2 linked regions of the Homo sapiens genome follow. The protein of the gene in region 1 interacts with the protein of each later gene in a pairwise test. Each region holds a gene or a part of one and is shown on either strand. Other genes may lie near its edges.

Region 1 (4,291 bases):
CTTTCCCTCACCCCCAGAGTGGGCCCTGACCCCAATTCCAGAAGATTCCTCTGGCCTTTCACTCCACCCAGGACCCAGATGCTGGGGCTGGGAGTGGAAAAGCTGCAGGAGGATTGGGGGTTTCAGGCCTGAGAGTGACCAGGAGAGAGGACGCCAACACAAACAGAGCCCCAGGAAAACATGCATGTACACGTCTACACACACCCTCTCAGTGCTAGACAGAAGCATTCAGACCCTCTGCACAGCTCCAAGGAGGGAAACAGCAGCTCCTGCAAAGGCACCCAAGGCCCGGACAAATAGACCAAATAGACAGGGACATTCCACCCACAGGGCCAGCTCCTCCCGCTCCCGCTCCAGAGACACACACAAATACCTCTGGAGAGAGAGAGGCTCACACCTGTCTCCCCCAACCCTGCTTCTGAATGCACCAAATTCATGCACGTGATGGCACGTGTACAGGCAGCCCCCAAACCCACCCCAACTCTGGGCCGGCCCTGTCCTCCCCACCCCATTAGATCCGGAGAGGAAAGACAGGAGCCACGTGAATCTACAGTACATCATGGCAGGGCACATTCCCCTTCTCCCTCACAGGAGCGCTCACACATCCACAACCTCATACCCCAGCAACTGCACAGCGGAGCTGTGGATACAGTCCCCCACCCCCTGCAAGCTGGCACACGCCTGCCCATCACCTTGACAGCCTCTGACATCCTCCCCCACACCCACACCCTCCCCCGCACACACGCAGTCCTCCCACACCCTGCCACTCACACCTGCATCTTTGACACTCTGACACACTTACACAGACACACTCACACCACACCGGACCCCCCAAAACACACTCCCTGGCTATGGGCACCACAGGGCCCCGGCACACCCCTGCACACTCTCCCTGCCACGATGACTGACACGTGTCCTCCCACACACAACTCGGTCACACTCGCTCCCTTTCCAGGACACCCCCATTCACAGCGTGACAGGCTGGTACTCTCCCCACGACCTCGCAGGCCTCTCTGAAACTCCCAGTACCAGGACCACGAAGGGGTTAAAGCCAGAGTCCTGCCTCCCCGCTGCCCCTCTCCCCCTCCCTCCCCCTTTATCCTCTCTGCTGGACTCCATCAATAATGCAGCTTCAAGTTCTGGGGAGACCGCAGGGGGCCCCCCAGCTGGCTCCCCAGGCCTTGGCTCTAACTCCCACCCTCCTCCCAGCCCCAGGAGAACACGATTCTCCATGCTCATTGGCCAGTTTCCCCTAAACCCTCCCTCCGAGCACCCGGGCGCCAGTCCCAGGCGGAGGGGACGGGCTGGGGACCCCAAAGCTGGGACCGGAGGGTGAGCCCGGCAGAGGCAGAGACACACGCGGAGAGGAGGAGAGGCTGAGGGAGGGAGGTGGAGAAGGACGGGAGAGGCAGAGAGAGGAGACACGCAGAGACACTCAGGAGGGGAGAGACACCGAGACGCAGAGACACTCAGGAGGGGAGAGACACCGAGACGCAGAGACACCCAGGCCGGGGAGCGCGAGGGAGCGAGGCACAGACCTGGCTCAGCGAGCGCGGGGGGCGAGCCCCGAGTCCCGAGAGCCTGGGGGCGCGCCCAGCCCGGGCGCCGACCCTCCTCCCGCTCCCGCGCCCTCCCCTCGGCGGGCACGGTATTTTTATCCGTGCGCGAACAGCCCTCCTCCTCCTCTCGCCGCACAGCCCGCCGCCTGCGCGGGGGAGCCCAGCACAGACCGCCGCCGGGACCCCGAGTCGCGCACCCCAGCCCCACCGCCCACCCCGCGCGCCATGGACCCCAAGGACCGCAAGAAGATCCAGTTCTCGGTGCCCGCGCCCCCTAGCCAGCTCGACCCCCGCCAGGTGGAGATGGTAAGGGGCCCGTGCCCCACCCCGGCAGCGTACCCGACACACCCCGCGGGGCTTCTTCGCCCTCCCAAGGCGCTGCCCCGGCCGGACTGGCCTGGGGGTGGGGGCGCAAGGAGAGCCGGGCTCTGCCTCGGTCAGGACGGGGCGCGGGGCCGCGTGTGAAGTTAGCTGGAGACTCGTGCAACTTTTCCCCGCGGCTTTGGTCCTGATCCCGGGGCAAGAGAGTTCCTGGCAGTGAGGCTGGGGGTGCGGGGGTGGGGGGACAGGCCGATTCCAGACCGCCCAGGAGTGGGGTGGGGGCGTCCTTTGGTCCCAGCACAGTCCCCAAAGGGTAGTCAGTCTCCTAGGCTACCACCGGGACCGCTCCGCCTGGCTCTGTCCCAGAGCTGGTCAGATGTGAGCAGCGGTGGACACTGACCTTGTCACCCAGGGCAGGAGTATGAGGCTGCCACCGGGTGAATCCACTACCCTGCCCCTCTCTAATCCCGCGTGTGTGCCTGGGCTGGGGTCTCCAGAACCTGGCTCTGGCCTCCTGCTGTCAGGCCCCAGAGCCCCAACCCCAAGGAGGGAGAGGTGGGGAGTCATCACAAAGCCAGACCTCTTCCCACAGACTACTGAGTCCTCCTGAGGGCCTTCTTGGGGGTTGAGGGGCTTCCAAAGGCTGGCGGGTGCTGTGACAGAGAGCTCCACTTCCCATCCCTAGTGGAGCAGGGGTCACTTGTTGCTGAGCTGAGATGCAGCTGGCTCCCCACTGAGCAGTGATGAGGGGGCCAAGTCATTATGGGGGGAGATAGAGGGCAGGGGGTACAGTCCTGGGCCTAAGCAGCTTTGGGTCATGAGGGTGTCATGGGGAGCTTGGCTGGGGAGGTGGCAGTTTCAGCTTAACTCACCTGGTTCTCTTTGTGCATTTCCCTGGAGCTCAACAGGGACCTAATTAACTGACAGTTGGTCTGATTGCCAAGCTGAGGGGCGGGGCGGGGAGGGGGGCGGTCAGTTGCTGCTTGGCTCACGTAGCAAGGAGGGCAACTTTTCATTTCTCACAAGGACTGGGTGAAGAGTTCTGCAGCCTTACAGAGACTGGAAAAGAAGCCCAAACCAAGGCCCCCAGAGAGGTCCCCCAGGCCCCTTTGGGTCCCTGAGCCTCAGCTGGAGGTGGGGGGTGCCTGCAGTGCGCTGGCTCAGTCTCCTTCTGAAAAGCTGGATCCAGCTTGTTTGAAGCCCTTGAGCTGATCTTAGGTGGGCAGGGCCACATGGGTGCCATGGCCCGTGGGGCATCTTCCCCAGAGGGCCCAGCCGTGGCAGCTGGAGCTGTAGCCAGCTTTGGCTTCCGAGGTCTGATGTTTTCAGAAACTGGAGAGAGGAAGGGCCTTGGTGGGAGAAGATAGGAAGGGAGATGTCTGTTCTGGAGTAGCCATGGAGTGGGACAGGCATGGGCTGGGAGTCAGTGACTGGGGTTTTTCTCGTCCTTTGGACTTGTTGTGCTGTGTGGCCTTAAGCACATTGCCAAATCTCTCTGAGCCCTGCTTTTTCACCTCTGTAAAATGAGGGGGTTAGGTGAGCTACAGAGTTCCTTTTGGCTCTGACAGACTTTGATTCAAAGGTTCCCTGGGGACTCCAAAGCACTGTTTGTTCCCTGCTGCCTGGGGGTGGGGGAGGGCTGCAGGTGTCCATCCAGTCACCCCTCCCTCCATCTCCTTAGATCCGGCGCAGGAGACCAACGCCTGCCATGCTGTTCCGGCTCTCAGAGCACTCCTCACCAGGTAGGCCCCTCCCTGCCCACTTAGCCCTGGCCCCACCCTAGCTCTGATGCCTTCCTAGGGGCCCTGCCAAAGTCCCATGAACAGGAGTCAAAGCTGGAGACTGGGGAGTGGATAAGGTCTGGGAACCCAACTCTATTGGCTTTATTTATTGACATGACACCTCCCAGCCGCAGGAGGGAGAGGGCACACTTTCCCTGTCCCCAGAGATTGAGACCCTGGGGAAAATAACTCGGATTCTTTCTCTCTCTCCCTCTTCTCTTTTCCTCCTCGCTTGGTTCTGGTTCGGTTGGCTTTGGTGGCCTTCCTCAGAGGAGGAAGCCTCCCCCCACCAGGTGAGTTTCCTGGGGCAGCTGGAAGGAGGGATGCCTGGGCCCCTTGGGGTGGGGTGGACGGGTGCCTGCAGTGACAACCAACCAGTATGGGGTGCCACCCAAGAGGACACATTAGCATATCAATGGGCAGTCCTCTGAGAGTGCCTCATGCCAGGGTGCCACCAGCAGATCCTCCTCTGCTCAGACTCAGGGTGGAACCTCCTGGACCTAGAGTCCTGCCCTGAACCAGGCCATGGCTTATGGGGGGCCCCCCCTAAAGCCACAGGGTGGGGAGGCTCAGCCTAGGTGCAGGACCCATTAGCAGTGGCTAAATCAGTCTGCTTGGGTGGCCATGGGT
Region 2 (3,812 bases), on another chromosome or scaffold:
GTGCCTGAGAGCATTGAGGAGTTTCTGAATTGCTCTTCTAATACCCCAGTTTATTTATTTGTGTCTCCCAAAATTGCTTGGTAATGGCTGCATAATATTTCATTTCTTGGTTGTACCATAATTTACATAACAATTATTTGGCAGTTAGATTGGCATAATTTTTTTGGGGGGGGACAGTGTCTAGGCTTTGTCTCCCAATCTGGAGTGGAGTGGTGCAATCTCGGCTCACTACAACCTCTGCCTCCCAGTTCAAGCGATTCTCTTGCCTCAGCCTCACCAGTAGCTGGGACTAGAGGCGCATGTCACCATGCCTGGCTAATTTTTGTATTTTTGGTAGAGGTGGGATTTCGCCATGCTAGCCAGGCTGGTCTTGAACTCCTGACCTCAGGTGACCCACCCACCTTGGCCTCCCAAAGTGCTGGGATTATAGGTGTGAGCCACCATGCCCGGCCTTGATTGGCCTGATTTTTTACTATTATCTGTGATGTTATTTTGAACATATTTATACTTAAAATTTGATTTGCGTATCTGATTATGTTCTTTGGGTAGAGTCCTTGAAAATCCTTATTTGTAGTAATTATAGTAACCACTAGTTTATTAATACTTCACATGAAATAGTCACTATGTTAAGTAAACACTTTATATATATGATTTTAAGACTTTCAGCTATAATCTTGTGGAGTAGTCAGTCAGACAAGGTTCTTCTATTAAGATTCACCAGGCTGGGTGCCGTGGCTCACACCTGTAATCCCAGCACTTTGGGAGGCCGAGGCAGGCAGATCACCTGAGGTCAGGAGTTCGAGACCAGCCTGGCCAACATGGCGAAAACCTGTCTCTACTAAAAATGCAAAAATTAGCAGGGCGTGGTGGTGTGTGCCTGTAATCCCAGCTATTTGGGAGGCTGAGGCAGGAGAATTGCTTGAACCGGGGAGGTGGAGGTTGCGGTGAGCCGAGATTGTGCCATTGCATTCCAGCCTGGGTGACAAGAGCAAAACTTAGTCTCAAAAAAAAAAAAAAAAAAAATTCACCAATCTTAGACTTTATGCAGTAGCCAAGCAAACCTTTTTCTCCACTATTGCTGTGAACTTTCATATTTACTATGTTCCCAGACTGGGTAGTGACTCCTCTTTCTACAATCTTCCTTAAAATTGAGGAAACTTTAACTAACATAAATCATTTCTCTTTTGCTAGCTCTGTGTTCTTTGAAGCAGTTAATGAATTTAGTTCCTCACAGTAGCTTTTGTTAGCATTAGATCTGTACTTTTATTTTGTTTGCATTTGTAAAGCATTTTTCTATTTCCTCTATCAGATTGTAAGTTCTTCAAGATCAAAAAGAGGAAAAGTGTTTTTTGTAGGTATTCATAATGCCTGGTAAAGGTTTTGCTGTTAATAGTTGCTAAAAAAATACTGCCAACTGGTTTGGCTAGCTAGCGGTACTGAAGCCTTGCTGTTGTATTCTTTTCAGGTGCACTGTATTAGCACAGAGTTCACTATGAGGAAACATGGTGGAGAAAAGGGGGTGCCATTCCGAGTACAAATAGATACCTTCAAGGAGAATGAAAACGGGGAATATACTGAGCACTTACACTCGGCCAGCTGCCAGATCAAAGTTTTCAAGGTATTCCTGGGCAATGTGCTGGCCCTTGGATTCTTTTACCTTATCATTCTATTTTAACATTAGTTACCAAGTCAGAAAATCAACTTGTCTTTTTTTGAAAACTCACACACACGCAAAAAGTCTAAGCTAGAGTCATTGAAATAATTACCAAGATGCCTGGTAAAGAAATTTACATGGTCGTAGGATAATAGGAACTTGGAAAAGAGGGCTAGAGGCAAGAACATGGATTCTCATTGAAAGCTCTTAAAGCCTATTGAAGTTACAAGCTCTTGTAAAGCTCACAAAAATTGACTAGTTATGGTTATTTTCATACTTGATCTTTTCTTATTTGGTCTTATTTATTTATTTATTTATTTTTGAGACTGGGTTTCATTTTGTCACCCAGGCTGGAGTGCAGTGACGCAATCATAGTTTAACCTCCTGGGCTCAATTGATCTTCCTGCCTCAGCTTCCCCAGTAAGTGGGACTACAGGCATGTGCCACCACACCGGGCTAATTTTTGTATTTTTTATAGAGAGGGGGTCTTGCCATGTTGCCCAGGCTGGCCTTGAACTCCCGGGCTTAAGTTATCTGCCCTCCTTGGCCTCCCAAAGTACTGGGATTACAGGTGTAAGCCACTGTGCCCCAGCCAGGGTCCTGTTTATTTTTATCACATGAATAAATATGTTCTCATTGTAAGAGATTGAATAATACAGAGGTATTCATAGCAACACTGAAATTCTCCCTTTACTACTCTTACACTGACCCCCTCCACAACCTCTTCCCAGAGGAAACCACTGTCATAATTTCATAATTTCGTATGTGTTCTTCTACTTCCCTCTTCTTTTTTTTTTTTGAGTCGGAGTTTCACTCTGTCACCCAGGCTGGAATGCAGTGGTGCAGTGCCAGCTCACTGCAACCTCCGTCTCCTGGGTTCAAGCTGTTCTCACGCCTCAGCCTCCCCAGCACCTAGGACTACAGGCACACACCACCATGCCCAGCTAATTTTTTGTATTTTTAGTAGAGACAGGGTTTCGCCATGTTGGCCAGGCTGGTCTCGAACTCCTGACCTCAGGCAATCCGCCTGCCTCGGCCTCCCAAAGTGCTGGGATTACAGGCATGAGCCACTGCGCCCAGCTCTTCTAGTTCCTTCCTATGCTTTTATACACACACATACATAGCTATATACATATTTTCTTTGACACATAAATGGGATTATACTATTTGAAATGTTTTGAGGCTAGGCACGGTGGCTCATGCCTGTAATCCCAGCACTTTGGGAGGCCGAGGTGGGCGGATCACAAGGTCAGGAGTTTAAGACCAGCCTGACCAAAATGGTGAAACCCCGTCTCTACTAAAGATAAAAAATTAGCTGGGTGTGGTGGCGGACGCCTGTAGTCCCAGCTACTGGGGAGGCTGAGGCAGGAGAATAATTTGAACCCTGGAGGCGGAGGTTGCAGTGAGCCAAGATCTCGCCACCGCATTCCAGCTTGTGTGACAGGATGAGACTCCGTCTCAAAAAAAAAAGAAAGAAATGTTTTGAGACTTGATTTTTTTCAGTGAACTATGTGCTTTAGAGATCTTTCCATGTCAGTAGCTATAGATCTGATTCTTTTCAACTCCATCGAATATAAACATTTAAATTTCCTATTTTCAAACTTAAAGTGATGTGTCTTGCCTTTACATCACTGCACATACAATTTTGTTTCATACATGAATATTTAAGTTTTTGGAAGCAATATTTTGGGTTAAAAGGTGAGTACCTGAATTTAAAACAAAATATTTCTCATTTCAGCCCAAAGGTGCAGACAGAAAGCAAAAAACGGATAGGGAAAAAATGGAGAAACGAACACCTCATGAAAAGGAGAAATATCAGCCTTCCTATGAGACAACCATACTCACAGAGGTAAAAAGATTTCTTTTGGTGACAATTTCAGTTCATAATTTTTAATCTTAAAAATTCATCACTTCCAAACTGGTCAGAATTTACTTCTCCTAAGCCTTGAGGGACACAGTATCACATGGATTCTGTGTCCAGCGGCCTTAACAGGAAGATTGCTTTAGAATTTGGCACGAACCATGCCACTGTCTCTGTGTCCAAGTTATCTTTCCCCAAATTACTCTGGTTTGGTTTGGTTTGCTGCAGGAGCTATTGTGGTGTTCTTTGCTTTGTATACATAAGCACATCTCTTGCCCAAATAGAATTCAGTTTCAT

The links.
Region 2: the proteins of PPP1R1B (region 1) and TFCP2 interact in binary tests that used the Homo sapiens proteins (3 or more experiments, as listed by UniProt).

Annotation. Positions count from the first base shown.
Region 1 is NC_000017.11:39,625,609-39,629,899, forward strand, and holds the start of PPP1R1B (protein phosphatase 1 regulatory subunit 1B), read left to right. Parts: upstream 1-1,343; 5' UTR 1,344-1,784; coding exon 1,785-1,865; intron 1,866-2,894; exon of another isoform or gene 2,895-3,098; intron 3,099-3,561; coding exon 3,562-3,622; intron 3,623-3,931; coding exon 3,932-3,954; intron 3,955-4,291. UniProt on the Homo sapiens protein: Inhibitor of protein-phosphatase 1.
Region 2 is NC_000012.12:51,106,927-51,110,738, reverse strand, and holds part of TFCP2 (alpha-globin transcription factor CP2), read left to right. Parts: intron 1-1,465; coding exon 1,466-1,618; intron 1,619-3,392; coding exon 3,393-3,503; intron 3,504-3,812.